Linked DNA regions of Homo sapiens. The protein of the gene in region 1 interacts with the protein of each later gene in a pairwise test. Each region holds a gene or a part of one and is shown in the gene's direction. Other genes may lie near its edges. The genes, in order: CHAT, TSC22D4, CDS2 and BAHD1.

Region 1 (7,802 bases):
GGAGTGGGCGCGGCACCCAAGAAGGGTTTCTTACAGTTCCAAGAGAGGACCCCAGCCACAGTCACTCCAGAGCCCACCCGGGGCTTGGAGGAGGCTCTGGAAAATGAGGGATGGGGGAGTGTGCAGAACAGGGGGCGGAGGCTGGCAGGAGCCGAGGGAGGGCTTGGTCGGGTGCGAAGAGTGCCTGGGAGGAGTTAGAGTGGGGAGGGGGTGCGGCGGCGGGGAGAGAAGAGGCGGAGCTGGGGGACCAGACCGCTAAAGGAGAAAGGGGGATTCCAGGCAAGGGGAATGTGGCCAGGCAGTGCGGGAGGGCGGCAGCGGCCAGGCTAATATTCGCGACCCCGACTGGGGCGCGGCAACTTCTGCCCTCAGTCCCCACAAGCTCCCGGCCGCGATTCGCGGCCGAGAAATTCTGCGGAGGGGCCGGTGGGTCAGAGCCAGGCCAGGCAGTTGCTGAGCCTTCCCCTCCCCTCCTGGCGGGAGTGTGTGTGCAAGGGGCCAGGGGGCGGAGTCGGAGAAAGGGTTGGGGGTGTCCGTGTCCAGCGCTCCTCCGGACGCGGCTCCACAATCCAGCTGCGAGAACAGATGGACGCAGCGGCGGCTCACCTCGGGGGCTTCCTGCTCGCTGTGCGCCGAGGTCCAGGCTGAAGCGGAGATCGCAAGCCTCTGGCTCCCGCCTCTCCCAAGGGGCCTCGAGGAACCGGCTGCCGCGCCCCCTTCCCCAAGAGGAGAAGAGCGGGCGCTGACCCCGCGAGTCCTAGAACCGCGGGCGGGGGGCAGGCAGGGGGCGGGGGGCAGAGGGCCAGCTACCGGCGCGGAACGCCCATCCCAGGGGCTGGTTCAAGACTTCCACACCGAGAGCCCTTCCTGGGCCTCCAGCCCTGGAGCATCTGGAGAGCGGACCCCTGCCCGGCCACGCCCCGCCCCCGGCCCCCGCCCCGCCGACGTCGCATTAGCATGAGCGACGTAAGTGGCCCGGGCACCACTCGGGGGCTGGGACTCGCCGCGTCACAGCCCCGAGTGGAAGGGAAAAAAAAAGAGGAGGCGGCGGAGGAGGCAAGAGCCGACGCGAGGGGAGGGGAGCGCAGCGGCGGGGCTAACGGGCGGGCAAGCGGGCGGGCGGCAACAGCATGTCCCTCGGCCAGCGCGGGCGGCCTCTTAGCGCGGCGGGGGCTGCTCTGGGCGCGCCCCGGGCGAAGTGCGCCCAGTCTCCGGCCCCGGCCCCTCGGCGCGCCCGACTTCCCGGCCGCCCCTGAGCCCAGCAGCCGCGGGTCCCGGGATCGGCTAAGAGTAGCTGCAACGCCTCGCCGGACGGAGTCCTTTCCTTTCCCGGGACGCTGGGCCATGAGCTCCGCGGCCACCTGAGGCACAGGGGAGTCTGCTCGGCCAGGACAGCCTCCCCGAAGTCCCGTGCCCTCGCCTCTGCACTGCGGGACGCCAGCGCTCGGCCCTGGCGGAGGCGTCCTCGGAAGAGCATCGGGGTGGGGGCATGGAATCCGCGGAACCTGCGGGCCAGGCCCGGGCGGCGGCCACCAAGCTGTCGGAGGCTGTGGGCGCGGCGCTGCAGGAGCCCCGGCGGCAGAGGCGCCTGGTGCTTGTTATCGTGTGCGTGGCGCTGTTACTGGACAACATGCTGTACATGGTCATCGTGCCCATAGTGCCCGACTACATCGCCCACATGCGCGGGGGCGGCGAGGGCCCCACCCGGACTCCCGAGGTGTGGGAGCCCACCCTGCCGCTGCCCACTCCGGCCAATGCCAGCGCCTACACGGCCAACACCTCGGCGTCCCCGACAGCTGCGTGGCCAGCGGGCTCAGCCCTTCGGCCCCGCTACCCTACGGAGAGCGAAGACGTGAAGATCGGGGTGCTGTTTGCTTCCAAGGCTATCCTGCAGCTGCTAGTGAACCCCTTGAGCGGGCCCTTCATCGACCGCATGAGCTACGACGTGCCGCTGCTGATCGGCCTGGGCGTCATGTTCGCCTCTACAGTCCTGTTCGCCTTCGCCGAGGACTACGCCACGCTGTTCGCGGCGCGCAGCCTGCAGGGCCTGGGCTCAGCCTTCGCCGACACGTCTGGCATAGCCATGATCGCCGATAAGTACCCGGAGGAGCCGGAGCGCAGTCGTGCACTGGGCGTGGCGCTGGCCTTCATTAGCTTCGGAAGCCTAGTGGCCCCGCCCTTCGGGGGCATCCTCTATGAGTTCGCCGGCAAGCGCGTGCCCTTCTTGGTGCTAGCTGCCGTGTCGCTCTTTGACGCGCTGTTGCTGCTGGCAGTGGCCAAACCCTTCTCGGCGGCTGCACGGGCTCGGGCCAACCTGCCAGTGGGCACTCCCATCCACCGCCTCATGCTAGACCCCTACATTGCCGTGGTGGCCGGCGCGCTCACCACCTGTAACATTCCCCTCGCCTTCCTCGAACCCACCATTGCCACGTGGATGAAGCATACGATGGCGGCTTCCGAGTGGGAGATGGGCATGGCCTGGCTGCCGGCCTTCGTGCCTCATGTGCTGGGCGTCTACCTCACCGTGCGCCTGGCGGCGCGCTACCCACACCTGCAGTGGCTGTACGGCGCGCTTGGGCTGGCTGTGATCGGCGCCAGCTCGTGCATCGTGCCCGCCTGCCGCTCCTTCGCGCCGCTAGTGGTCTCACTATGCGGCCTCTGTTTTGGCATAGCCCTAGTCGACACAGCACTGCTGCCCACGCTCGCCTTCCTGGTGGACGTGCGCCATGTCTCAGTCTATGGCAGCGTCTACGCCATCGCCGACATCTCCTATTCGGTGGCCTACGCGCTCGGGCCCATAGTGGCAGGCCACATTGTGCACTCGCTGGGCTTTGAGCAGCTCAGCCTTGGCATGGGACTGGCCAACCTGCTCTATGCTCCCGTCTTGCTGCTGCTCCGCAACGTGGGCCTCCTGACGCGCTCCCGTTCCGAGCGCGATGTGCTGCTTGATGAGCCACCGCAAGGTCTGTACGATGCGGTGCGCCTGCGTGAGCGTCCTGTGTCTGGCCAGGACGGCGAGCCTCGCAGCCCGCCTGGCCCTTTTGATGCGTGCGAGGACGACTACAACTACTACTACACCCGCAGCTAGCATCCCCACTCCTCCTCCAGCCCACCCAACCGCCTTGGGTCAAGGGGGCTGCTCTGCAAGCCCACTGGCCAGCTCTGGCTCAGGGCCCACCTCCTCCAGCGAGTACCCCAGCCACTCCTCAACCTTGACTTCTGCCCAAATCCCCTCCCTGTGACCCGTTCCATATCCCTTTCTCTCTTGTCCAATGGGGCTTGGAGCACCGAGGCCAGCGAAGCCATCGCGCTCCTTGCGGAGGTGAAGAGGACCCTGAGTCCCCACCTGCGGCTCCCCTGTGTAGAGCCTGCATCTGTCTGTCCTTCCTTCCATTGCTCCCAGTGCCAAACTTGGGCCGCTGCACCGCGGCGCCTCCGCCCAAATCAATAAACTGTGTCTGTCCCAGGAGGCCGAGTCTCTTTACTGGTGGGGGGTGCGTGGAGGCGCGCAGGGCCAGAGCAGAGGGGAGGGTGAACTGGGTCTCCAAGTCCCAATCCAGACCTAAGCCAAACTAACACGTAGGCACCTGTAGCTGTTTTTCTACCTGGAAAAGGGGATAGGAAGGAAGCAAACCCAACAAAGGCTGTCACCCACGGTCACCAAGGAGCACCATGCTCCCCTCAGCCCAGGATAGACCCTCTTTTCCAGGCCTAGCGCAGAGCCCGGGGATGCCGCCCGGGGGAGCCTGAGGACCCGCTCCAGCTAGGCACGCCAGGCCCCGCCCTTTGAGGACACGCCCCACACCAGCCTCAGAGCTCTGAGGTGCCTGGGCTGAGCTTCCCTTCAGACCAGAATCCCGCCCCGTTGAGGCTTTGAGAAAGGAGTAGGAGCCGAGCATTCCGGCAGAGGAAGAAAAACGGCCCATCTTTTAGAGTCCGACCTCTGGAAATGTGTGTATGATGTGATGTGTGTGTTCATTAGAGAACTTGTCCTAGGAGGAGTGGGGGAGCCGTGGTTGGTGTTTGCTGTATCCCTGTCAGTCCCGAGGGTCTGAGTCTTGAAGGGAGAGATGCGAGTGTGGGATCTGGTGCCAACCCCCACTGCCACCCTGTCCTGAGTGGGAGCAGCGGCCCAGGACTGTCAGGAAAGTTTCCCATCCTTAGTCCCAGCCCTGAGAGCCTCAAGCCAGCGTTCGCGCAACACTCCATGTCCCGAAGACCGTAGTCTGATGATCGAGGCAGAGTCTTCCCATCATAGCGTGAAGAGGCGGCTGGTCAGGGTCGCCTGTGTGTTAGCTGCGCCTGTGAGGGTCTGCTCTGCTGTTGTGCGCATGTCTGTCCTCGATCTGCGAGTCGGGCTGTGTGTGCCTGGGCGGAGTCTGCCTTTGTCGGTCTGTCTGTGCTATTTCTGTGTGGGGGTCTCTATCTGGGGTGGGGGATGCTTTTGTCTGAGAGGAGAGCCTGCCTCTTGCCGCAGTCCTTAAGCATCCTCAGGTCTGCCATCAGGATTGTCCCAAGTCTGTAGCACCCCACCTCTGCTCCCCACCCCATAGTGCCAGCAGGAATGGGATGGTAACAGAAAGGGAAGTCCTGCAGTGAATATTGATCCCAGTTATTGTTTCTTATTATTATTTTGAAAGATGGTGTAGCAGGGTTTGAGACTGGCCTGGATGGTGGGGAGAGGAGGGCAGCGAGCAGAGACTTCCTCAGACCCAACCCTCTCCAGGATTCAGCAGCAGCACCCCAAGGCTGGAATAATGGGGTTGGGGAAGTGCGGTGACTGGGAAATGCTGAGCTAGGGGCAGGAGGCATGGGCGGGACAGTGTTCTGTGCCCCCTTCTAGAGCCTAAATTTGTTGCCCGAGTTCCTCCGGGAAGCGCTCCGGGTAGATTCTGGGGGCCGGGAGCTGAGATCCCTGGGCGGGGAGCTGGGGAAGGGATGGGGCTGAGGACAGCGAAGAAGAGGGGGCTTGGGGGAGGGGGGAAATGGAAGAGAGAGGAGGGAGGAGGTACAAGAGGAAGGAGAGAAGTGCGGCCAGCTTGCTTTCTCCAGTCGGGTGGCCGCGGGGACCCGGGCGACGTCGGAGGCCCTGCCGGGAACCCAGGCTGCAGCCCCCACCCCCGCGCTGCGACACGCCCCCCACCCCTTCCGGCTCACACCCCCGCCCACACTCCTGAGTGGTGCGGTGCAGCGTCGGCCGAGGCAGCAGAGCCGAGGAGAGCAGGTGAGAAGAAGGGCTGGGCTGGGCTGGCGGAGCGCGGTGCCGGGAGCAAGGGCGGCGGTCGGGGGCTCTATCCAGGGACAGCACCGGGGCCGAGAGGCCCCAGGACTCGTGGAGTCCTCTGAGTCCTGCGCAGCAGCGGCCGTCGGGGGTCAGCTAGGAAGCTGCAGGATTGCGTTGCTTCGGTGCCTGGGCTTGGGGAGGCTTAACCATCAGGGCTTCGGGACTCCAAGCGCATGTTCTCACTTCACTTGGCCCAGCATCTGCTAAGTGACCAGGTCCGCGCTTTCTGTGTCTAGTCGGAGGGTCCTTGGGTCTGACCCGACTCGCCTGAATTGCTGGTTGGCAACCGCTTCTCCCGGGAGCAGGGGGTGGGGAAGGAGGAGCAGTGGCTGGTGGCAAGTCTGAGCCAGGACATAGCCGATGACAGCCTGTGAATGACCGGCCAGACTGGGGTTGGACCTTCGGGGCAGAGCAGGCAGCCCTTGGAAAGCCAGGCTGGCAGGAGCATGGGTGGGAGGCACAAAACACAAACAGACATATATACACATACATCCTCTAGGCATCTGCCCAGGAGTGATGGAGGAAGAAGAGTTGGTAGGTGGGACCACCAGGAAACCATCCCACCCAGCTCTGCCTTCTTCAAGCTCAGGGTCCCTGAAGCCTGACTAGTGTCTCCCGAATGGGGGGGAGGGGGGGGCTCTGGGCCAGAGCAAAAGGAGGCATTGGCTGCATGGTCTGTAGGGCCTTTACCAACCTGACCTTGTCCTTGCTGTCCTCTCAAAAGACTGCCATGCTCCGGTGAATCCTCACCAGGACGCCACCTCTTTCACTTTGCAGTTGGGGGCAGCCCCTACGAACCCACAGCACTGGGAGGCGTGGGAACAAGCCTGTGGAGAGTGTCCCTGCACTGTGCCAGCAAGGGCTTTACATTCTCTGCCCAGCACTGCAAGGCAGCCCCAGGCTCCTCCATCCTTGGGCCTGGTTCATCCATCTTTCTGGACTCTCTGTTCCTGGCAACAACCCTGCCAGGTGCCCATACATGGGCGGTGCTTGCCTCTGGGTAGGGGTGGTGTTGGGTGGGGAGAGGGGTGAGGAAATTAGCTAAACCTCAGCTTTAGACTTGAGAGAATAGAGGGTGGGCTGGTGGAAAACATGAGTATGTGCCTGTGGAGGCTTAGGTTCAGGGGGATCTCAGAGGGTAGCAATTGTGACCCACAGCCTAATAATAACAGTCTTTGCCCTCTTGGCCTGGCTCACTTCTACTGTACCTTCAAAATTAATCTGCCTCTCCCCAGACTAAGGCAGGTGGCCCCTAGGGGCCCTGGCTGCCCAGCCTCCCTGCATACCTCCCTGGGCACTCCTATGGCATCTACACTGGCAGCCTGCAGACCCGAGACTGCCTAGGTCACAACGCCTCCAGCAGGCCCAGAGTCTCCCTGCCCTGGCCACAGGCCAGGCTCCCAATTAGCCCAGATGCATCCTGGAGCACAGGGCCTTAAAGGCCTCCATTCACCCACGCATGCATTCCTTTCCCTCCACCAACGGAGTGAGGGAATTCACCCTACTCCACACCAGAGATGTGGCCGGAATGCAGAGATGAAGCACTGAGCACAGTAGGTATGGTCTTACCCTTGAGAAGCTAGTGGGAAAGAGAGAGTTTGATTGGCAAAGCACTTATCTATTGGGTTCCAGGCAGGAACAAAGGCAGCACTCTGCCAGCAACCCCTGGTGGATTTGGATTGCCCCAGGGTGGTCAGCTGGCCTTGGGTGACAACAGACTCATGAGAGCAGACCCTCACTTTAGGAACCACTCTCTCCCATATGGGGGCCCAGAGAGAACACTGTGGTCAGCACGTACAGGTGGAAGTAGAGACTGGGGCCACGCCTGCAATGAGACCCCTATACACAGCTGTCAGGCTCTGGCCTCCTCATGGGGCTGGGGTGGGGGTCTGTTGGCGGGAGGTGGAGGGTTTGTGACAGGCCTATGTGGCTGCTGTGTTGATGCTTCCCACTTCTTGGTCCCCAGGTCCACACCTCTGCATCCCTGCACCAGGACTCACCAAGACGCCCATCCTGGAAAAGGTCCCCCGTAAGATGGCAGCAAAAACTCCCAGCAGTGAGGAGTCTGTGAGTGACTTTTGGAGCCCTCTCTCAACCCTGCTTTCCCCACCTACATGCCCTTGCTTCTAGAACAGTCCTGAGTGGGACTGGCCCCCAGCATTTGCCTGGCCCCAGCCCTGCCCTCTACTGGCACAAGGCCCAGGCTACAGCTCCACCCCCAGCTTGCTGAGGATCCCAGAAGGGCCTGGAGGGGCTGAGACGGGCCTCAGGGTGCCAAGGAAATGCTAAGAGCTTAACTTCCAAATCCCCTGGCCAGGCTAGGCCCTATCTTTCCTTCCAGGGCCTCTCTTCATCCCAGCTTCCACTTCTGATAGCTTTGAGCCCAGTGATTTTGCCTTAGGGTGGGGCTGAATTCCTACTCCAAGCCCTGCAAGTCCCAGCTCCAGCTGCTATCACTAGTTCAGCCTTGGAGCCTTAGGCACCATGTTCTCCACTGGCCTGAGACAATGCCATCCTC
Region 2 (7,690 bases), on another chromosome or scaffold:
GCCCCGCCTCCGGGTCCGCCCCCAGACCCGCCCCCGGCCCCAAACCCACCCTTCCACACCCTCCAAGGACGGAACGGGAGCGGCCGTGCGGCGCGGGGCCGTGGGGCTGGGGCGCGGGGCGGGGGAGCCGCGGAGCCTGCGGGGGCAGATTCGGAGGAAGGTCGTGGGGCGCTGGGGGCCCGGCGCCAGCCCGTCGCGGTCTTTGGGCGTCCGCTCCTCGCCGCCCCTCGCCCCCTGCCCGGCCGGTCGGTGCTGAGTTCGGTCTCCCCGGCCCCGGCGGAGCGGCGTGCGGCGGCGCCCCCCAGCGGCAGCCTGGGGCCCACGCCCCCGCACCGTGTACCCCGTGCACCCCGTGCAACCCGTACGCCCGGCGCGCCCCGGGTCCGCACCCAGCGTCGGTCCGGGGCCGAGGCTGCGGCTGCGGGGCCCGGGGTGCAGTGAGGCGCTGGGGCCGCCAGGGGGTGCCGCTTTCCGGGCCGAGGGGCTCCGAGGGTGGGGAACGGGACGGGCGGCGGCTCAGCCCAGCAGGGGGCGTGCTCCGGCGGCCGCGCCCCCTTTCCCCACCGCCCCCAGGTGCCAGGAGAGCACCTGAGTTGGCTCGCGGGGGAATCGGCTGCCTCCCCCTGCAGCCTCCCGGGGGTGCCCGGATCTCGTTCCACCGTCTGGGCTCAAAGCTATCCGCCCCCGTGGCCCGAGTCCTCCTCTCGTGACCTTTGACTCCCCCGGCGCCGCTCGCAACGACCAGGGTCGACCTGAGTGTGGCCACCGCGGCTACCACCCTGGCACTGTCGGGGGGCCGCTACGGGACGTGACCTCGACCTCCCCTTTTCTCATTTATCTTTTCTTTTCTCATTATCTCCCCTAGAAATAACTCCCTCTGAAATCCCTTGGGCTCACAGCTCTGCAGCGGGGGTAAATCAGCTCGAGAAGACCTCGGTTGTACCTTCCACGGGCTGGAAAATGGGCACGGCAAAGATAGGCACGGCCTGATCCCTGGAGCCTGCGAATGCTACTTTCCATGGCAGCGTCTTTGCAGTCTTGCTGTGTGGCTTTAGGCAGATCGTGCAACCTCTCTGAGAGACGCTTTAGTCCGGGGATGTCCACTCTTTTAACTTCCCTGGGCCACATTGGAAGAAGAATTTGTCTTGGGCCACACATAAAATACTCTTAACACTGGCGGGGCGCGGTGGCTCACGCCTGTAAATCCCAGCACTTTGTGAGGCCGAGGCTGGTGGATCACCTGACATCAGAAGTTTGAGACCAGCCTGGCCAACGTGGCAAAACCCCGTGTCTACTAAAGATAGAAAAAATAAGCTGGGCATGGTGGCCTGCGCCTGTAATCCCAGCTACTCGGGAGGCCAAGGCAGGAGAATCGCTTGACCTGGAAGGCAGAGGTTGACGTGAGCCCAGATCGGGCCACTGCACTCCAGCCTGGGTGAGAGAGAGAGACTTTGTCTCAGAGAAAAAAAAAAAAAAAACGAAAACAAAAACAAAAACCAAAACTTAGGCGTTTTAAGAAAATTTACCAATTTGTCTTGGGCCACAAGCTGCCCGTGCGGTTGGACAAGCTGGCTTTAGTCCATTCTTTGGAAGGGGAGGGGTAGTAAAATAATACCAAAGTGCCTTGTAAATTGTAAAAGGTCCCACATATTATAGGCTATTAAGAATGCTCCCAGGGGAGGGAAATATTAAAACACTTAAAACCCATTTCACATTTATACCTTTAGTATGATTAGTTTATATGTATAGGCCGGGAGCAGTGGCTCACGTCTGTAATCCCAGCACTTTGGGAGTCTGAGGCATGCAGATCACTTGAGGTCAGGAGTTCGAGACCAGCCTGGCCAACATGATGAGACGCCCATCTCTACTAAAACTACAAAAATTAGCCAGGCGTCGTGGCGGGTGCCTACAATCCTGGCTACTCGGGAGGCTGAGGCAGGAGAATCACAACCTGGGAGGCGGAGGTTCAGTGAGCTGAGATCACGCCACTGCACTTCAGCTTGGGTGACAGAGCAAGACTTCATCTCAAATTAAAATATAAAAATTTGTATGTATTTACTCAACAAACATTTCTGCAGAGATCAACAATGTGCCAGGGCCTCTAGACTCAGATACCAGTGCCTGAGGCAGAGAAAGAGACTGCCCAAAGATAATTTTTGAATAGTTTGTAGCAAGTCAGCAAGAAGGAAGGAGGGTCTGGGGAAGGAGGGACCAAGGCTGTGTTCTGAATGTTGCTAGAGGAGAAAAGGTTCTGTAAGGGACAGAGGGATGCAGTCTAGAGGGGTAGGGAGCAGGTGGGAGGCTGCTTCCCAGACTTCACTACTTGGGAGGCCCACAGACTTGGGCTATGGCAGCCGTTGTTACTATGGCTTAAGGGAGAGAAACAGAAGTGTGGATGCTTCTAACAAAGAGATAAAGAATAAATACATAAAGAGGGTAGGTATTGCATTGTTTTATTTTTACGTACCCCTAAAGAGGGGTTAGAGGCCGGGCGTGGTGGCTTATGCCTGTAATCCCAGCACTTTGGGAGGCCGAGGCGGGCGGATCACGAGGTCAGGAGATCAAGACCATCCTGGCTAACACGGGGAAACCCCGTCTCTAGTAAAAATACAAAAAATTAGCCGGGCATGGTGGCGGGTGCCTGTAGTCCCAGCTACAGGCTGAGGCAGGAGAATGGCGTGAACCCGGGAGGTGGAGCTTGCAGTGAGCCGAGATAGAGCCACTGCACTCCAGCCTGGGCGACAGAGCGAGACTCCGTCTCAAAAAAAGAGGGGTTAGAAATTTCCCTGAGGCCAGGCACCATGGCTCACGCCTGTAATGTCAGCTCTTTGGGAGGCCCAGGTGGAAGTATCATTTGAGGCCAGGAATTCGAGACCAGCCTGGGCAACATAGTAATAACCTGTCTCTACAAAAACTAAAAAATTAGCCAGGTATGGTGGTATACACCTGTGGTCCCAGCTACTAGGGAGGCAGAAGCAGGAGGATCACTTGAGGCCGGGAGTTCAAGACCACCCTGGGCAACATTGCAAGATCCCCATCTCTACCAAAAAAAAAAATTTTTTTTTAAAGAAATTTAGCCAGGCGTAGTAGTGTGTGTCTGTGGTCCCAGCTACTTGGGAGGCTGAGGCAGGAGCATGGCTTGAGCCCAGGAGTTCCAGGCTGTGGTGAGCTATGATCGCACCACTGCACTCCATCCTGGGCAACAGAGAGAGAGAGAGACCCTGTCTCTAAAAAAAAAGGCGGGGGCAGGTTGGGGGAAAGGGGAATAGTATAACATCTAGGATCTGATTTCAAATAGTCCAGCAAACTACAGCTGGCCCCCACACAATGTCATTTCATTGAATGTCATTTCATTATAACATTGATGATTTTCTAAAAATTGATTTTGGGCTGGGACCACCATCTGTGTGGAGTTTGCATGGTCTCCCCATGTCTGCATGGCATGTTTGAAAATTTTCATAATAATCCACTTTTTTTTTTTTTTTGAGACATGGTCTCACTCTGTTGCCCAGGCTGGAGTGCAGTGGCACAATCTTGGCTCACTGCATCCTCAACCTCCTGGGCTCAAGAGATCCTCCTGCCTCACAGCCTCCTGAGTAGCTGGGACTACAGGTATACATCACCACACTCAGTTTTTTTTTTTTTTTAAGATGGAGTCTCACTCTGTCACCAGGCTGGAGTGCAGTGGCGTGATCTCGACTCACTGCAACCTCCGCCTCCCAGGTTGAAGTGATTCTCCTGCCTCAGCCTCCCGAGTAGCTGGGACTACAGGTGCCCGCCACCACACCTGGCTAATTTTTGTATTTTAAGTAGAGACTTGGTTTCACCATGTTGGCCAGGATGGTCTTAATCTCTTGACCTCGTGATCCGCCCGCCTCGGCCTCCCAAAGTGCTAATTTTTTAAATTTTTTGTAGAGATGGGGATCTCGTTATATTGCCCAGGCTGGTCACGAACTCCTGGGCTCAAGCGATCCTCCCACCTTTGAGTAGCTGGAATTATAGGTGCACATCACCATGCCCAGCTATTTTTTTTTATTTTTTGTAGAGATGGGGTCTTGCTATTATATTGTCCAAACTGGTCTCAAGCGATCCTCCTTCCTCGACCTCCCAAAGTGCGGAGATTACAGGCATGAGCCACCACCGGGATCCGGCAATAATCCACTTTTAAAAATAAGGAATGGGGGGAATAATGCAGTTGCTGTGAAAACCAAAGGAGAATGACAGTAACAGCCACAGCTGCCCCACAGCAGGGACTGGGAACTTCTGGGTGGGCATGCAGCACACCTCCCGGCCTGTGCCTTCCGTCTCTTCTGTGTGTCTCTAGGCCAATGGCAGCAATTGACTACAAGTAAGGGAATCCCTCGCCTCCCTGCAAGCTCCTCCCCTTTCTCCCCGAGCCCCGCCCCCTGCAGCCCCTCCCTGCAAGAGTGGGGCTAGGGCCCGGCAGGTGTGGGGTTAAGGGAGTCTGTTTGGGGCCCCCAGGAGCAGCAGCCTAAGCAGTGGCTGCAGCAACTGCAACAGCAGCGGCTGTGGCAGGCCTGGCCCCGGGCCAGCTGGCGGGAAGCCCCAGGAGGGAGGGAGGGAGGAGGAAGGGGAGGAAGAGGGGAAGGAGGAGGAGGAGGAGGAGAGGAGCAGTCAGCAGGCCCGAGGAGGCAGGACTTCCTGGTGTGGGGGTTGTCAACAGCCCAGAAAGAGAAAGACGGAGAGGCAGAGACCCAGGGGAGCCGAGGAGCGGAGACACGGACCCAGCAGGGTCACGCGGGAGGAGACTCGGGACACCCACTCGCTGGCTGCCACCGGGAGCAGAGGGGGGCTCGGCCGCCCCCTCCCACATCAGTCTCCAGACCCTTGGGGCTTCAGAGGCCGCTCCTAGGCTCCTCGGAGGAGGCGCGGGTTTCTTCTTTTCCGGAGAGCAAACTTTCCTCGGAGATGCCTGGCAGGATGAGCCGCGGCCCCCGGAGAGGACGGGACAGCCTCTGATCGCCGCCTGCGTGCCCCGCCACTGCCCATGGCCAGGAGGCCCCAGGGAACGGACAGCCCGACCTCTTAGGCGCCGGGACCCTCAGGCTCAGATCAGTGGCCGAGGCCCCAGAGGTAGGGTTCAGGGCTGGGTGGGGCGCTGGGGGGTAGCCGGGCAGGGCCTGCCCCAGAGATGTGGGAGCTGGGGTGAGGGTGGGGGCTCGAGGCCCAGGAGAGGTCTCTCTGAGTGGCCGGGCCAGGCTGGGGAGCTGCTTCAGCCTGGTTCTCCCAGGCCCTGGAGTCCGAGCTCTTGGGACAATACGGGCCCCCTGAGTCAGAATCCCAGGCGAGAAATGCCCAACTCTGGGACTCATCTGCCTCTTTCTACTCTGAGTGCCTTCTTGGATCCAGTCCCCTCTGCCCTGGTCTCTGTCATCTCTTGCCTGTCTCTGGGTCTCTGACGGTTTCCCCTTCCCCCACTCTGCTCCCCGGAGAGGAAGCCCCGGAGGTGGCCTGCCCACTGGTTTCACACACACACACACACACACACACACACACACACACACACACACACACACTCTCTCTCTCTCTCTCTCTCTCTCTCTCCCCCTCTTTTTCCAGTTTGCAAACTCAGCTCTGGAGTTCAGCAGCAACAGCAGCAGGAAAAACCTGCCCCTGCTCCCCCCTCCCGCCACCTCCCCTCTCCTCTTCTCCCCTCACCCAGCAGGCACCCCCGGTTCCCGCCAGGCCCTCCTGCCATGTCGGACCCAGACGTCCCCAGGGGCTCGGATGTCCCCGCCATGTGGCCCCCTTGTTCCAGGGGTGCCTGAGCCCCTTCAAGGAGCCCCAACCCACCCCCAACCTTGGCCCAGCCCTGAGCCCCAGGGACCATGAGCGGGGGCAAGAAGAAGAGTAGTTTCCAAATCACCAGCGTCACCACGGACTATGAGGGCCCTGGGAGCCCAGGGGCTTCGGATCCCCCTACCCCACAGCCCCCAACCGGGCCCCCGCCCCGCCTGCCCAATGGGGAGCCCAGCCCCGATCCGGGGGGCAAGGGCACCCCCCGGAATGGCTCCCCACCACCTGGGGCCCCTTCCTCCCGTTTCCGGGTGGTGAAGCTGCCCCACGGCCTGGGAGAGCCTTATCGCCGCGGTCGCTGGACGTGTGTGGATGTTTATGAGCGAGACCTGGAGCCCCACAGCTTCGGCGGACTCCTGGAGGGAATTCGAGGGGCCTCAGGGGGCGCCGGGGGCAGATCTTTGGATTCCAGGTTGGAGCTGGCCAGCCTCGGCCTGGGCGCCCCCACCCCACCGTCAGGCCTGTCTCAGGGCCCCACCTCCTGGCTCCGTCCACCCCCCACCTCTCCTGGACCTCAGGCCCGCTCCTTCACTGGGGGACTGGGCCAGCTGGTGGTGCCCAGCAAAGCCAAGGCAGAGAAACCCCCACTGTCGGCCTCCTCACCCCAGCAGCGCCCCCCAGAGCCTGAGACCGGTGAGAGTGCGGGCACATCCCGGGCTGCCACGCCCCTGCCCTCTCTGAGGGTGGAAGCGGAGGCTGGGGGCTCAGGGGCCAGGACCCCTCCACTGTCCCGGAGGAAAGCTGTAGACATGCGGCTGCGGATGGAGTTGGGTGCTCCAGAAGAGATGGGGCAGGTAAGACCTGGGTTCTAGGGCTGGCCCATCAGCCCTGGCCTAACCTCTATCTTGAGCCTCCTTCCTCCTCCTCCCCCCCCTCTCCTCCTCCTTCTCCATCACTTTATAAGATCAGATAGCCCTCTTCTCTGTGCCTGCCAGGTCACTCTGAAGCCCCTTCCTCCTACTTCATTTTCTGTCTCAGCCTCCTTCCTGTTTTTCTGCACCCTCTCTCTTTCTCCCTGGCCTCTGATTCTCTGTCTTGGTCTTCATGTAGCCTGTAGCATATGTGGCCCCCTCATCAGGCCTTCTTCTGTCTTGGTCTCAGCCCCTCTGCCTCTAGGTGATGAGGGTGGAGGCCCCAGCTGGATAGCTGGGTAGCTGGGTCCCTAGGGGAGGAGCTGCCAGGATTTGGGGAGGAAAAGTAAAAGGTAGGCCTTGCGCGCTGCCAGTCTCTGCACTGCAGCCCCATCCTGAATGTGGGGGTCTTTCTTTTCCCCCAGCCACCCATCTCAGTCCTGCCTCCAGCTTTGCTGTAAGCCAAGTGTCACTGAGAAATTGGGTGGGGGGAACACCTCTCAGGGACAGGGAGGGGGCCTGCTGGTTGATCCATTTCACCCCCCAGTTGTCTGGCTCACCCCCGTCCATCTGAGCCTCTCTGTGATTGATAACTCGAGGGTGACCACTGTGGAGTGGGAGAGAAGAGCCCCAGAAGGGAGTTCAGTCCCATACTCTTTCTCCTTCCTGTCTCCAAAAGAGGAACAAGCCAGGCTGTGGGGGCAGGATGCCTGGGTCCCCATGGTGGGGGTGAGCAGCCAGAGATAGAAGGTTGGATACTTCTGTCCTGTGGGAGAATATAACACCTCGGAGGTCTGGGGAAAGGCAGGGAGTGTGAGGATGCGAACTCTTTCCCCTTCCTGGCCTTGGGCACAAACCACAGTATAAAAATAACCTGGGACTGGATGTCTGGGTCCTGTCAGGACCGGTCAGGACTGGCTCCCCCCAAACCCCTCCTGGCCTCAAGCTCACATCTCTCGTGATGCCCCCTCCTACCCCCCCTCCCCCAACTCTTCTTGAACTCTTGCATTCAGCACCCACCC
Region 3 (7,017 bases), on another chromosome or scaffold:
GCTTTCAGGCAGGGTGCTAGCAGTTGGAGAGCACCTTCTATGCCCTCTCGCGCCCAGGCATGGTGACATCAGCAGGTAGCCTTCTTGTCAGGCATTTGATGTTCCAAGGTCAGGGTGAGTGCACCCAAGGGAAGATGAGATACACAGCTTTTCTCCTATGTGTGCCTTGCCCAGAGGTGGGTGATTTTCCTGCCCTTTCCAGAGCACCATTCTCTGCTTCTGACCCTTGGGCCAGTCCTCCTTCTTCAGCACTGTCTGGCTGCCCTTCAGTGCTCACCGCCCAGCTTTGTTGCTTTCCAGCCTTGTTCCTCCTGAGATCTGCCTCTCACTGTGCCCCTTCCCCATGGCCTCTCTCCAGTTATCACTGACTTCAGAGATCTTGAGGAAAGTGGTCCTAGCTCCCCAAATGGGGAGAGTCTTCTTGTAGTTCTTTGCCCCAGTCCCTTCAGGTTTTCCCGGATTCTTTCGGGGCCTGGGTGTTTGGGTTCCTGTATGTAACCTTGGTGGGTCATGAGCCTCTTTTTTTTTTTTTAATTGAGGTAAAATATGTATGGTAAAACATGAACCTCTGAGCACATAGCTCGCAGTTAGCAGGGTACTAGGCACCCTCAGGAACATGGCCAAACCAGGTGCCTGTGTCTGGGCTGGATGGTTGGAACTTACTTCCTTGCCGGTCTCTCTGTTATTCCTCCTCAGCTGTCCTATGTGATGTCCGGGTACAGATGCTTTGTCTGCCCTGTGGAGTACAACAATGACACCAACAGCTTCACTGTGGACTGTGAGCCCTCGGACCTGTTTCGCCTGCAGGAGTACAACATTCCTGGGGTGATCCAGTCAGTCATTGGCTGGGTATGTGCCACTCACAGGGGGTGAGCGGCCTCCATGGACAGTGGCTACAAAGAGAGATCCCCCTCCATCACCTGCCCTCTGAAAAAAGCTAGCTTCCTCCTTCCCAAAGCTGTAAGCCCCAGGATGAAGGAGAATTGCTCACGCCAGGTCAGGGTATGGGCAGGACAGCTTTCCCCCAACATCAGATTGTTTAGACCAGTGGTTTTCAAAGTGTGTTCTGTGGATCCCTGGAGGGCCCTGGGATCCTTTTAGTTGCGGGGGTAGGGTGGGGGGGTCTGTGAGGTCACAACTGTTTCATAATTAGACTATGACATTATTTTCCTTTTTCAATGTGTTGACATTTGCTGTGATACGGCGCAAAAGCAGCAGTGGTTAAAACTGCGTTAAGGCAGTGGGTTCCTCATGCCACACACTCACAGTACAAACAGGCCAGTTCTAATGAATGTCTATGAAATAGTAAAGTTACTAATTTTGTTAAATCTTGACCTTTGTACACACACCTTTTTAACACTCTCTACTGAAATGGAAAGTATGTGTAAAACATTTCTGCTAAGTACTGTAGTACAGTGCTTGCCTAAAGGGAAAGCATGTGTGCAGTTGTTTGAGTTGTGAGCTAAATTAGCTGCTTTTTTTTTAGAAAAGAAAGTAAATTTTACTTGGAAAGAACCAACAAATTATAATTTTTCAGACTTGGGTATTTGGCAGACATTTTTCTTGAAAAGGATGAAGTGAGCCTATCACTTTAAAGAAAACAACTGAGGCTAGGCACAGTGGCTCACACCTGAAATCCCAGCACTTTGGAAGGCCGAGGCAGGCAGATCTCTTGAGGTCAGGAGTTCCAGACCAGCCTGGGTAACATGGCGAAACCCCGTCTTTACTAAAAATACAAAAAAATATAGCTGGGGATGGTGGCGTGTGCCTGTAATCCCAGCTACCAGCTACTCAGGAGGTTGAGTTGCTTGAACCCAGGAGGCGGAGGATGCAGTGAGCCAAGATCGCACCACTGCACTCCAGCCTGGGTGACAGAGTGAGACTGTCTCAAAAAAAAAAAAAAAAAGAAAAGAAAAATGACTGACAGTAATTGTTACCAAGGATAAAATTTGGCTTTCAAATGAAAATTAGAATTTTGGAAAGCTTAACCTGCCACTGTGAACTTGACAGCTTCCTAATACTTAAAAGCCTTTTCTGATGAGGTCTGTGATGATTCTTAACGTACGTGTGTGTGTGTGTGTGTGTGTGTGTTGATCACATGAGAAAAAACACAAACATATTTGACACGGTATAATGAAATGTGTCTACATTTGGAAGATTTACATAACTCAGTGAACCATTATTTTCTAAATGGCTGATGCATGGTGTTATATAGTCATGCATGGGTAAAAGATCCGTTCAAGTATAAGATAGACCAATGGATTTTAATGTAAGAGAGAACAAAGTCCATTGATAGAATTCTAGATTCCATATCACACCTAATATTCAAGAAATGACTACTTGTCAAGCTCTGGTGTAGTGTCAGAGAATACCCAAAACCATCTGAGGCTACGACTAAAATACTCTTTTCAACTATGTATCTGCGTACGGCTGGATTTTCTTTATATACTTCCACCAAAACAGCATGTTGCAACAGATTGAATGCAGAATATTTTAATGTTTTCCATTAACTTAGATATTAGAAATTTACAAAATGGGAAAAATTCACTCCTCTTATTGATTTAAAACCTACATGTATATAATTAGTTTCATAAAGAGTTACGAGGTTGGATGTCTTGGTCTGTCTAGTGTTGATAGAACACTTGGGGCTGGGTAATTTACAAAGAAAAGAGGTTTACTTAGCTTCTTTCTGCAGGCTGAGAAGTGTGAGAAGTGTGGCATTGGCTGCTGCCTGGCTTCTGGTGAGGGCTTTTTATGCTGCATTGTAACATGGCGGAGAAGGTCAAAGGTGGAAGCAGACACATGCAAAGAGGCAAAACCAGGGGCTTCATCACTTCATAACAACCCATTCCCTCGGGATGCCAGTGCTAATCTAGTCTCTTGACAGAACTCACTACTAGGAGAAAGGCACCAAGCCATTCATGAGGGATTTGCCCCTGTGACCCAAACACCTCCCACTAGGCATCACCTCCCAGTGAGGCCACAATGAGGATCAAATTTCAACATGAGTTGACAACTCAAACCGTAACACTGGGCATGTATGCACCTAAACTTTTACTTCATTTACTCTTCTCAGAAAACGGTCCGGATGTACCCCTTCCAGATTCACAGCATCGCTCTCTCCACCTTTGCCTCGCTCATTGGCCCCTTTGGAGGATTCTTCGCAAGTGGATTCAAACGAGCCTTTAAAATCAAAGTAGGAAAACCGTCTTACGTTCCTCTCATCTCACTCCCTCACCCATCTTCTGCCTTTCTCCCCCTTCCCTGCCCCCTCCAAAATACTAGGCTGTACACCCTGGCATTTAATGTGTGATCTTGACCCATGCACTGAATTTAGGTGAGTTAATTAATAACAATATTTTCAGGAAAATGCAATCGTTGTTTTTCAGTTTATTTGTTAATATATCTTTCTTCAAAAGAACATTTTGGGCCAGGCAGTGGCTCATGTCTGTAACCCCAGCACTTTAAGAGGCCAAGGCGGGAGGATCACTTGAGGCTAGGAGTTAGAAAGTAGCCTGAGCAACATAGCAAGACTCCTGTCTTTATTAAGTAAATGAAATAAGAACATTTTGTAATGCAATAAAATTGTGTCCTAATATAGCCTCACCATTAGATTTCATACTTCTCACCTTCTATTGCCCTCAGCTACTCAGCACAGAAGCCTGACATTGGGGTGGGACCATTAGGCTGGGATTGGTTAGTGGCTGAGCCCAAGTTCACCCATCCTTCCCCTGCCTCTAACAGGACTTTGCCAATACCATTCCTGGCCATGGAGGCATCATGGATCGCTTTGACTGCCAGTATCTGATGGCCACCTTTGTCAATGTATACATCGCCAGTTTTATCAGGTATAGTACCTTTCCATCTGAACCAAGTTGGTGGATTTTTAAGTACGGTGCAATTCTAGAATTTTAGCGGCATCTAAGTTCCAGTGAAAAGCATCCCAAATAATGCAGTTTTCAGTTGTTTCTGCTTACAGATTTTCTGAGGCCTCCTGTCATCTGTTAATAGATAACTCTCTGATCCAGAGATCAGAGCAGCCACTCAGATAATCAGGCCCTGGAAGCTTCCGGGCCCTAGCTCAGTGCTGTTTCTTCACATTCTGTTCCAGAGGCCCTAACCCAAGCAAACTGATTCAGCAGTTCCTGACTTTACGGCCAGATCAGCAGCTCCACATCTTCAACACGCTGCGGTCTCATCTGATCGACAAAGGGATGCTGACATCCACCACAGAGGACGAGTAGGGGCCACCCAGGGCCAGGAGAACAGGAACAGAACTGAGCAGGGGCAGGTCTCCAAGGCAAGCCCAGCTGGTGTGACTTAGACAATGACGAGGCTTCAACTCACTGTCTTTTTTTTTTTTTTTTGGAGGGTATTTTTTATTTGTGGGTTCAAAAAATCTGTATATACAGTCTATGTGTTTAGAATTTGTGTTGTAAGTAAACTACAGCTTTGAGTTGGAAAGAAGTCACGGGTTGTAAAACCATTTGGATTTTTTTAAAACAAAAGTATTAATAATCTGGAAGACAGTGTTGCCCAGGTCAGGAGTGTTTTCTTGGTGGTTCCAGCCCCCATCAATTGAACTGTTTCTGGGCTCAGTCAGACACAGACATTCATCTGTGTCTGACCAAATCAGGGGACTTCCCCACCTGTGGTGGGAGGCACAGCTTAGATGTTTTGTACACCTGGTCTTTTCTAGAAATCCCTGCTTGGAGCTGCAGAAGGGTTGCCTTCTGTAGGTCGGAGGAATGGAGGCTTACTAACCAGGTAAGCCTTCTATGCATCCACACCAAAATCCTGCAGAATGTAAGTAAGCTCTGCTTTATAAGATGGGTTCACCTTCATCGCAGACTGAAAGTTTCAGTTTTTATTTTTTTCAGAAAGCACGAAAAATTATTTATAATAGTCTGGAGAAAAAACACACTGTAATATTTCAAGTGTATGCAGTAGAATGTACTGTAACTGAGCCCTTTCCCACATGTCTAGGCTCCAATGTCTCCTGTAGGTCCACCTAACTGTGTGTTTTCAGGGACAATGCCATCCATGTTTGTGCTGTAGACTTGCTGCTGCTGAATCCTTTCTGGGGACTTTCTCATCGGGCAGGGAGCAGAGGGCTTCTCGTTCATGCACCCTTTGCCTGAACACCCATGTAGCTGCTGTGTTGTGTATATATTACTCTTAAGAGGAGTGTGTGTGTCTGTGTTTGTTTTAAAAGTCACTTATTTCTTACAGTGATTTCAATTGCACCATGACTTCTTCACTAAAACCACAAAGTCCTGCTTAAAACTATGGAAAACCTAACCTGATTAGAGCCTTGACTATTTTGAAGATTAAATGCACACTTTTTATATAATGTGACCAGTTTAAATGTAGTTTGTATTGTACTGGGGGACCTTTCGTTGTTGTTGTTTGCTTAAACTGTGATTTTTTTTCCCCTCCCTAATTTCAGGGGTGAGATTGACTTTGGGAAGACAGATTAGTTCTTTGTCAGGCCAACAAGTGATGGAGTGCGGGAGAGAGAACTTGGCACCCAAATATATCAAACTATTCCGTGCCGTGGATGTTTTCATTGCCAACGAGGGTGTAATGATTTGCTTCTGCACCTTGGTCTAGTGCTGGTTTGTGGTGTTTTTGTTTGTAAATTAGCCTCACTGCCTCCCTGAAAGTGCACAGTCAGCCCAGGTCTCTAGAGTGTCCAGCAGAGGATGGAGCCCTCGGGATGTTTCAGCTCACACATCCTTGAGTGACTTCCCATATGTGTGTGGGGCTGAAGCGGCTTCTTTCCGCTGAACTTTTATTTCCATTTCAGCCTCGTGGCTTCTCTTATTCAGGTCCAAGGCCCCTTAAAAACAAAACATATTATCGCAAGGGCTTTCATTTCAGTATTGGCTGTGTCACTGGCAGGATGCATCACTCTCCAGGGCCTCTTTTTCGGAGCTACTCCCAATTCCACTCTTCTGTGATTCTGGCTGAGCAAGTTCATGCCGGTAGAGGCTCATTAAGTGAGGTCCTGGGCACCCCCCAAACAGGAAGTGTTTTCAGGCCCTTACATGCTTATCCTTAAGGTGAGTAGGTATCTCAGCAGCACACCCGAACAGTAAAGGTGATCAATAACGAAACTGTAGTTTTCAGATTGAAGAATGAACCTGGATCACCAAACTAGATACCGAAAGGGCTCCTCATTTGTCTCTTTTGTCCCATTGTGGGCATATGGTGGGCTCCTTGAGAGGAGGGAGTCTCAGCTGGGGCCTGGCTGCAGAGACCTGCTCTTGAATAGGGCTGCCTTTGGGATCAGGGAGCCGAGCATACTGGGCAAGGCTCATCATGTTCCTTTGTGGAAGTGGTTACTTGGTGGGGGTGGGGTGGGGAAGGGGGGTCTAGGAAGCCGAAGCTGAGTGCGCACTAGAGCTGCTAGCAGGCAGGCCAGAGGGTCAGCTTGTGTTTTATTTTCTGATTTCTCCTGCATGCTTTCTGGAGATGAGGATTTTTTGTCAGGTAGCTAGGAGAGCACTGCCACCTTGTGTCCATATAGCACAATGTTTCTCTTTCCTATTCACAGACAAGATTCAAGAAACCATTTTTACGTGTGTACATTCAAATCTTCATGAATGGCATCACTTGCTTTAGACCCATTTTTTTTTTATTGGTCAGAAATAAAATGTGACTGCAACTGTGTGCCCTCCCTTGTCGTGAATTCCCTGTTTATCACTTCCATGCATGGTTTTATGCTTCTCATTTGTTTATGTATTCATGAATACTGCATAGTCCTGATTCAGAGACTTTTGCTTTGCTTTCCAACTTGTATCCCTACATTCTCACAACAGCCTTCTTACCTCGGGTGAGAGTCATGAGCACCTTACCAGGCAGGGAGCTTCCCCAGGATAGTGTGGTGGAGTCAGGACTCACTCCATCCTGCACTTTACCCACAGGACACCTGGAGGGTCCCCCAGCCCTGCTTGCTTTTGTGAACGTCGTGTGAGTACACCGAGGTGTTGCAGCTTTCCTTCCCTCTAGCTC
Region 4 (7,239 bases), on another chromosome or scaffold:
TGACGGTAGTCGGGGGTGTGGGCGGGGTGAGAAGGACCCCGGGGACACTCCGATTAGGTCTGGAGACAGCCTGAAATAGGGTGTAGCCCGCAGTTGTTGGGGCTGCGGAGGAGGCGACTGGGGTGAGGGGCAGAGAATGCACCCCAAGAGAAAGGCATAGGGCCCCAAAGAGGGTAGGAGACGGGATTCAGAGAGCGGGAAGGAGAATGCAGAAACAGCTTTTACGGGGAGAGGCAGACTGCAAAGACGTCCCCTGGCCGGCAATCTGGAGGCTAGCGCTGGGCAGATGGGGGTTTTGGACACAGCGCCATGGACATGTGTTCCCCAAAGTCTGAGCGCATGCAGCCCCCTTGTTCCTTCTTGTGCGGAGACTGAGTCCCACACAGTCCCTACCTCACCGGGACCTCCCCACCCCCAAGGCCGGGGCCGTAGTTGCCTTCAGGGGAGGGAGAGGTCCTGTTCCTCACTGGGCACTCAACAGCTGGCTCCTTGGTGGTAGGAGGGTACCTTGCCCCTCCAGCTCAAGAGTCAGGAGGAGCACTTCTACCTCCTCATCCCTAGGGAAGAGGGCCCCCGCAGGTAAAGACCAGACTTCTGCACTAGGATTTGCCTGGGGGGCAAATAATTTCTGGAGATCCCTTTAAGGAGGGGTGTTCCAATCCCTTTAAGAGGGAGTGGGTCACAGCAAAAGGACTATAAAAGTCCAGCTTTCTTTATTCCCCCACCCCCCAGGGGCTTCCTATGATGGGGGAGGGGGCAAGTGCTGCTGCCGCATTTAATTGTTGCCTTGGTGTCCCTCCCCCAAAGAGCTGTGCCCTTCAGTTCGTCCAGTGGGGCTGAGGAGCCGGGTGGCTCAGTAAGTATTGTGGGGACCTAGACTTCAGGTGCTCTGGGGGTTGGGACAGGGGCTGCCCCACTTCCAGGAAAGAAGGTGGGACCTGGGCAGGGGCTGGAGGGAGGAGAAAGTGGTCACTGCCACCACTGCAGGGACTGCACTGCCGTTGGGGTGCCCTGCCTGGTGCCAGGTGGTTGGATCTCAGGCCAGGCGGTCTTCGGGGACTGCAGCGGGCAGTGGCGGGGAGGTGCTGGGGCTGGGCTGGAGATGACCGAGCAGCCAGTCTGTCCCGGCTGTCAGTCTGGTTGTGTGTGGTGGGGGAAGGGTGCGCCGCGTGGTCTCTCTGGCCCTGGATGTTTTACTCTAGGGCATCTCCCTCTGAGGCAGTTAACCCTTCCCGATGGGTCTGGAGGTGTCTGGGGAGAGAGAGCCCCTGCCTGGCAGCAGCCCGGGAAAGACTCCGGAGACCCGATGGACCCATTCCTCTTTCTACACCAAGTGCCAAACCCTTTTTTCAGTGGGAGACCTCTGGGCTGCCAAACATACCAGGGAGAGGAAAGGTGATGGGCCCCAGGCGTTGGCACAGCTGCCCAGTGAAGTGGGGTGGAGGCAGCATTCACTCAGGAAAGGTTACAGGACCGAAGGAAGGAGGAAGAGGTGGAGCCCTTTCCAGCTGTGGAAGGGCTTTGGACTGGGAAAGAAGGAGGCCCAGTTGCAGAGGTCCCTGAAAGTTGGGTGAAGGAGGCTAGGAGAGGCCAAAAGTTCCCTTTGGGGGACAGGCAGGGTGTAGCCCCTGCCTATTCTTTGCTGGCTTGTTTTAACAAGCAATAGGGAGGAAGGGGGGACAGAGGTGGCTCAGTGAGCTGGCACAGGAGGAACACTTAGTGCCTTTAGCCAGCCCGTGTCCCCGCACCATAGCCCACTCAGTCAGAGCCTCCTGGGGCAGCGGACACCGCCACCCACACTGGAGGCTCTGAGGGGAGAACTCCTCCAGCGGCCAGGCAGGCACTTGGTGGGCTGTCATGACTACTCTGCCTCCTCTCCGGTTGGTATTCCTTCCTTTCCCTCCCACTGAGACCCCAGATAAGACAACACTCCCCTGCTCACCCCAGGGCCCTCTAATGCCAACACCAGGAAGACACCCAATCCTGCCACCTCGTCCTGCTGCCATTTCCTCGGCTGAACGTGGGCTTCCTGCCACTTAGGTCTCCTTCCCTGCCACCAGGTACATTCCTCTTCTGGCCCTCCCGGCCTCCATCCCTGCCCATTATCAGGCCTGAAGTGGCTGCCAAGGTCAGCGCCGCCTGGGCTGCAGACAGGAGCCCGGCCTCTCTTCTGTCTTGGCCTGTAGCATGGCTCTGCCCCCGTGGCCACCACTGCTGTACCCTCCACCACCAATCTCTGACGAGTGGGGGCCACCGTGGGGTTAATTTGCCTATGGGCCAGACTGGGACAGGGAGAGGGGGAATTCTGTGAGGTGGGGAGTAGGGCTGGCCTGGTGTGTGTTGGGGGGGCGCTGCCGGGAACCTCTGTCCTGTCCAGGAAGGGGAGAAATCTTTCAGCGTCCTACTTTTACAGCTTTGGGGTTTTGCTTTCCCCAAGGGTGGGAGGTGGGAGAAGTGGCAGTGGGAGAACCTGGACCTTCGAGACATTTCCGTGCCACAGTTTTAGCTTTTAGCTTCCATTCACACACTTTCCCTGCTGAGGGGGCCCCTCCTTTAAGTGTGTCCCCCCAAACAGCTAAGACAGTCTGGGCCCCCTGGACAGCTCTGGAGGCAGATGGGGAACTGCTTCTGGGGGAGGTTGTTTCCCAGCCATATTGGCTAGCAGCCCTGATTGTCTTAAAAGGCTGCCTGGGTGAGCGCTGGAGTCCCAAGGTCTAGGAAAGGCTGGGCGCTGTGTGTGGTGCAGGAGGAGCCCCTCCGAAGCCCCTGGGCCACACTCCAAGGCTGGGTTTTCCTTGCTTGCCTGGGCAGCCTCAGCACTCTGGGTGCCTCTCTCTGCCCAAGGCGTTCCTGGGGCCCAGCCCCTCCCTGGGCTGCTCCAGCGCTCTGGTGACTTGACACTACCCTTTCTGCCGCTGCTCCTTTTACCTCCTAAAGCTCCCCTCCCCCGCCTGAATTGGGAATGAGGCTTTGTTCAGGGGTGAACTCAGCATTTCTCGAGAACCTACTGTGTGCATATCCCGGGCTTAGTGAAGTCCTAGGCGGGCTCTGGCACCACCAGGTGCCCAAGACACAGCTCCTTCCCGCACCTAACAGGGACTTCCCATCTCTCTCTGTGCCCTTAGCCTGCTGTGCCCACCCACCCCACTGACCCCGCGAGCGTGCTCGGGCTTGGGAGGGCACGTCTGTGGGGGTGAGAGACGGAGCCACAGCATTTGGTGACTAGGGGGAAGCCAGGTAAGTGTCTACACTTGGTTCTCCCGTAGCTTGGGGACGCGAGGGAGGGAGTCCAGCCGCTCCTGTCAGGCTGCCCGCCCCTTTCTCCCTCCCCCGGAGAGCTCTGATGTTCCCCGCGGTGGTGGAAGAGGGTGTGTGGGTGTCAAGGACTCACAGACCAGGCTCTGCTGTCAGCTGGAAATGGATGAGGGCTCCACACTCTGCTTCTGAAGAGGGTGAATTAGGAGCTGGGGTTGGGGGCGGTAGGTGAAGGGCAGAAAGAGGAAAAAGAGATGCGGGTGAGGGGTTACCGAGCCAGGACCGACCTTGCTGGAAAGGAAAGGAGACGTGGCAGGCAGGGAAGTCGGAAAGATGAGGCAAGGGCGGGAGGGGCTTCTCAGCAGTCGGGGCCCTTTTGCAGGAGTCTGGGGCCCTTTCTGCAGGAAAGGGGGGTTGTTCTCGCTTGATTTTCGGCTGGTCTTCCTGAAGCTTTGCCCTGGGGGCAGCAGCCTCCGGCGAGGATGGGGTGTTCCTCGGCCCGCAGTTTTCTCCAGCGCGTGCTGGGGAGGATTTGGGGGAAAGGGGATGCGGAGGGGTGATGGCCAGGGCGGGGGGAGATAAGATTTTTCCGGGGGGGCTAGCAGCTGGGAGATTGGGGTCGAGTCACCGTGGGATACGGGCTCAGGTTCTGAAGACGAAGAGAAAAATCCAAGAAGCCGGCAAAGAAAATCACCCCTTGCCACCACCCTTGGCACGGCACCCCTCCCCCAAGGCCCCACCACTCCCCGCACCGCCTCCCCCGGCCGCCTCGTGCTGCCCCCTGCGTTGGGACGACCGACCCACGGTTCTGATTGGTCAGAGACCGGGAGGGGGAGCCGAGGGCCGGATTGGCTGGCGGAGCCAGCGCAGGGCGGGGCGGCTGATTGGCGGAGCTGGCCGAGGGGCGCGCTGCTGATTGGCTGGGGACGAGGAAGCAGGAAGGAGGGCGGCGGAGGCTCCGCTCTCGGGGAGTTTGTGGGGGAACCGCGAGCGGCGTAGCGGATCCCGGAGCCCGGCCCCCGCCGCCCGCCCGTCCGGCTGCCTGCCCCGCCCGTCCGGCCCCCGCCGTCCGCCCGCCCCGGCCAGGCGCGCCCGCCCCCCCCGACGGCCCCGCCCGGCCGCGGTCCCCGCTCCGCCCGCCCGGCCCCGGCCCCCAGGAGGAGGCGCTGACGCAGCAGCGTGGAGCCCGGGAATTGAGCGCCCCCGGGGGGTTCCAGCCGCCGGATTCCAGCCCGGCCGGGGCCTGCGGGCGCCCAGAGCCGCGCCGTCCGCGCCGCCCGTTCTGGTGAGTCAGGGGCCGGGGTCGAGGAGGGGGAAGGGGCGAGCTGGAGGGAGGGAGCGAGCGAGGTAGGCAGAAGAGCGAAGGGGGAGAGCACCGGCCGCCCGTCAGCGCGCCCCACCGAGCGCGCCGCGCCACCGCCCCCGCCAGCCCGGGAAGGGACGGACGGACGGACGACGCGAAGCAGGTGCGGCCGCCCGCCCGCTCGCGCCACCTCCCTCCCCTGGGTCCGGCACCACGGTCCCGCCATCGGGGAACGCGGCGCGCCTCGAGGTGACAGCCCCCGGGGGCCGCCCGCCTTGCAGGCCGGGGGCGGGGTGGGTGGCGGCCGCAGGGTGGCAGCTCGGCCGGGCGGCGGCGGCGCGGGCGTCCCGAGCTGCGGAGGGCGGGAGGACGCCGGTCTTTCCTCGCCGCGGCGGAGCCGGCTCGCCTCCGAGTGCGCGGGCGGCGAGGCCCCCGCCGCGCCCCCTCCCCCATCGCGGTCCCCGAGGCAAGGGGCCGCGGCCGGGGGCGGCGCCGCGGGATCGCCCGCTCAGGGTGGGGGGCGCCCTCCCGCGCTGGGAGCTGACCGGTTATTGCTGGATGGGGGGCAGGGGATGAGGGCCGCGCCGGGCCGGGGGCGGCAGGGGGGAGTAGTGTAGACCCGACTCGATCGGGCTGAGAGGAAGGGAGGCGCCGAAGACGGAAGGGGACCGGTTCGAAAAGCGAGTGTGGGCCGCGGGAGGCCCTGCGGGGACCTTGCGGGGCGGCGGCCGAGTCCGAGGTGTGGCGGGGGGAATCGAAGTTGTCAGACCGCCTCCAAGTGACAGCGGGACCCTGTGCTCGCGGCCCGGCCTGGTCTTGCCCTGCTCGCTCCGCCGCCTCTCTTCTGGGGCTGGGGGCCGGGTCAGGTCGGGCCCGAGGGGCTCGCTTGGCGGTGAAGCGCCGGACAAAGGCGGCGCCGGAGCGGGCGCAGGTGGTGGCGTCGGGGAGGGGAGCGGGTCCGAGGCACCCACTCCGAGGGGCGGGCGACGGGGCCGGACTCTGCCCCGGGGACTGCGGGGGCCGGGGCGCCCGCCGGGAGGAGCTGCGGCACTGGCTTGCCGCTCTAGCCGCTCGCTGTTGGCCTCGAGGCTCTGGGAAGTGGGGTCTACTTGCCGGGGGCCGAGGGGCCGGGGTGGGGGTGTATGCTCATGATGTGCCTTGGCTGGTGGCGACGGGGTTGCTACTCACCGAGGCGACAGACCCAGTGAGCCGCTGTAGAGCCTGTCAAGAATGAGGGGTTTTTCAACAAGCAGAGTCTGCCTACAGGCAGAAGTCTAACCCCACCTGGGACATCTCCTAGTCGCCCATTGTCGACAGTGTTAGAAGTGCAGAAGACTAGTTTGATTAGGACAAGAGACACCCCACCCCGTGGGCTCCCGCCAGCCCTCCGCAGCTGCCTCCAGCACTTTTCCTTAGCCACAAAGGTACCCACTTAGAAAAATGAGAAGCTGAGTTTATAAATCCAGGCAGGAATTTAATAATGAAATAAAAAGCTTTCCAGTCCTTTTACTTTGTGCCACCTGAGACTTTCCTCCCTACTCTCTTCACCTCGCTGTCTTCCACAAAAAAAAAGAAAAAGGGCCCAGAGGGACCACATGTCTTGGAGGGGCACCACTGTCCTTGGCCAGCTTGGAGGATGCTTAGGAACCACTGGCTTAAGCTGTGAGTGCCTCCATCTCCCCCGGTGACCAGCTGTGAGCTGGATGTTGTTTACCTGCTTGGAAAAACTCATTCAGAGCTCCCATGCCCTCCATGTGAACCCCACACCCAAAAGAAGAGTTGGGATCATAAGGACAGGGAAACTCAGGCTGTTTCAGAATGTGGATTTTGCTGAGAATCTGAGTTCGAGTCCCACCTCAGGTAGGGCTGGTTAGAAGCCGCTCTCAACTGTGGTTGGCTGTAATCCCACCTGGGAAAGCTGCTTGTCTGCCACTTCAGAGGGTAGCATGGGCATGGGAGTTTATTCATGGCCACCCCCCATGGACCTCCCTGGAATGATCTAGACCCCAGCCTGGATGGAGCTGAGGCTTGTGAGAAAGGTAGGTATTACCTCACTCAGGAGGCTAAAGTTTGTTCTGAGATAATTTAATTGCATGTCTAAAATCCAGAGAGTGATGATGAATCTCAAGGCCTTTGTGCCTTCTGTGAGGCTACACGGCATGTGATTTCTTTTGGTGGCAGTCAGAAGGGGATGACGTGGTCTGGCCACTGGAATATGAAGGGGAGTTGCCCAAATAGCATTTCCCTCTTTGGTAGGGCTCTTACCTGGCAGGAGACTCATGCCAGTCGGATCTGGTGTTAAGGAGGGTTTGCTCCGGAGAGTTTAGCCAGTGATTAGGTTCTTTTTGATATCTCCCTCTCTTTCTTCCTTTCTGTTGTCCTGCTGTCCCCGTGTCAGGCCTGTGTTGTTGTTATAGCCTCCCTTTCCCTCCTGCTTCCTTTGGCCCTTCTGATCCAGTCTGTATGCAGCTACCAGGTCATTCTTCCTAAAACACCCCTTCCCGGTGTCACTCCCTTTCTCACAGACTTGCAATGGCTCCCCGTTCCCTGCAGTCTGACCCTAGACAGTGTCCCCTCCAGCTCTTCCCTAGCCATACCATGCACATTTTTTCTTCCTGCATCTTCACTGCTGCCGCTCCCCTTCCTTTACTCCCACTTGAATCCCACTTGTCCTTAGTCTG

What was found.
Region 2: the proteins of CHAT (region 1) and TSC22D4 interact in binary tests that used the Homo sapiens proteins (3 or more experiments, as listed by UniProt).
Region 3: the proteins of CHAT (region 1) and CDS2 interact in binary tests that used the Homo sapiens proteins (3 or more experiments, as listed by UniProt).
Region 4: the proteins of CHAT (region 1) and BAHD1 interact in binary tests that used the Homo sapiens proteins (3 or more experiments, as listed by UniProt).

The regions. Positions count from the first base shown.
Region 1 is NC_000010.11:49,609,252-49,617,053, forward strand, and holds the start of CHAT (choline O-acetyltransferase), read left to right. Parts: upstream 1-4,785; 5' UTR 4,786-4,938; coding exon 4,939-5,224; intron 5,225-6,771; exon of another isoform or gene 6,772-6,801; coding exon of another isoform or gene 6,802-6,841; intron 6,842-7,250; coding exon 7,251-7,351; intron 7,352-7,802. Other genes in the region: SLC18A3 (vesicular acetylcholine transporter), read left to right, coding at 1,490-3,088. UniProt on the Homo sapiens protein: Catalyzes the reversible synthesis of acetylcholine (ACh) from acetyl CoA and choline at cholinergic synapses.
Region 2 is NC_000007.14:100,476,198-100,483,887, reverse strand, and holds the start of TSC22D4 (TSC22 domain family protein 4), read left to right. Parts: upstream 1-4,673; 5' UTR 4,674-5,094; intron 5,095-5,580; 5' UTR 5,581-5,849; coding exon 5,850-6,611; intron 6,612-7,690. Other genes in the region: TSC22D4-C7ORF61 (uncharacterized protein LOC122198330), read left to right, coding at 5,850-6,611.
Region 3 is NC_000020.11:5,185,991-5,193,007, forward strand, and holds part of CDS2 (phosphatidate cytidylyltransferase 2), read left to right. Parts: intron 1-696; coding exon 697-849; coding exon of another isoform or gene 850-869; intron 870-3,076; coding exon 3,077-3,196; intron 3,197-3,744; coding exon 3,745-3,848; intron 3,849-4,111; coding exon 4,112-4,244; 3' UTR 4,245-7,017. UniProt on the Homo sapiens protein: Catalyzes the conversion of phosphatidic acid (PA) to CDP-diacylglycerol (CDP-DAG), an essential intermediate in the synthesis of phosphatidylglycerol, cardiolipin and phosphatidylinositol.
Region 4 is NC_000015.10:40,436,729-40,443,967, forward strand, and holds the start of BAHD1 (bromo adjacent homology domain-containing 1 protein), read left to right. Parts: upstream 1-4,224; 5' UTR 4,225-4,540; intron 4,541-4,681; exon of another isoform or gene 4,682-4,807; intron 4,808-5,711; exon of another isoform or gene 5,712-6,524; coding exon of another isoform or gene 6,525-6,597; intron 6,598-6,620; exon of another isoform or gene 6,621-7,239.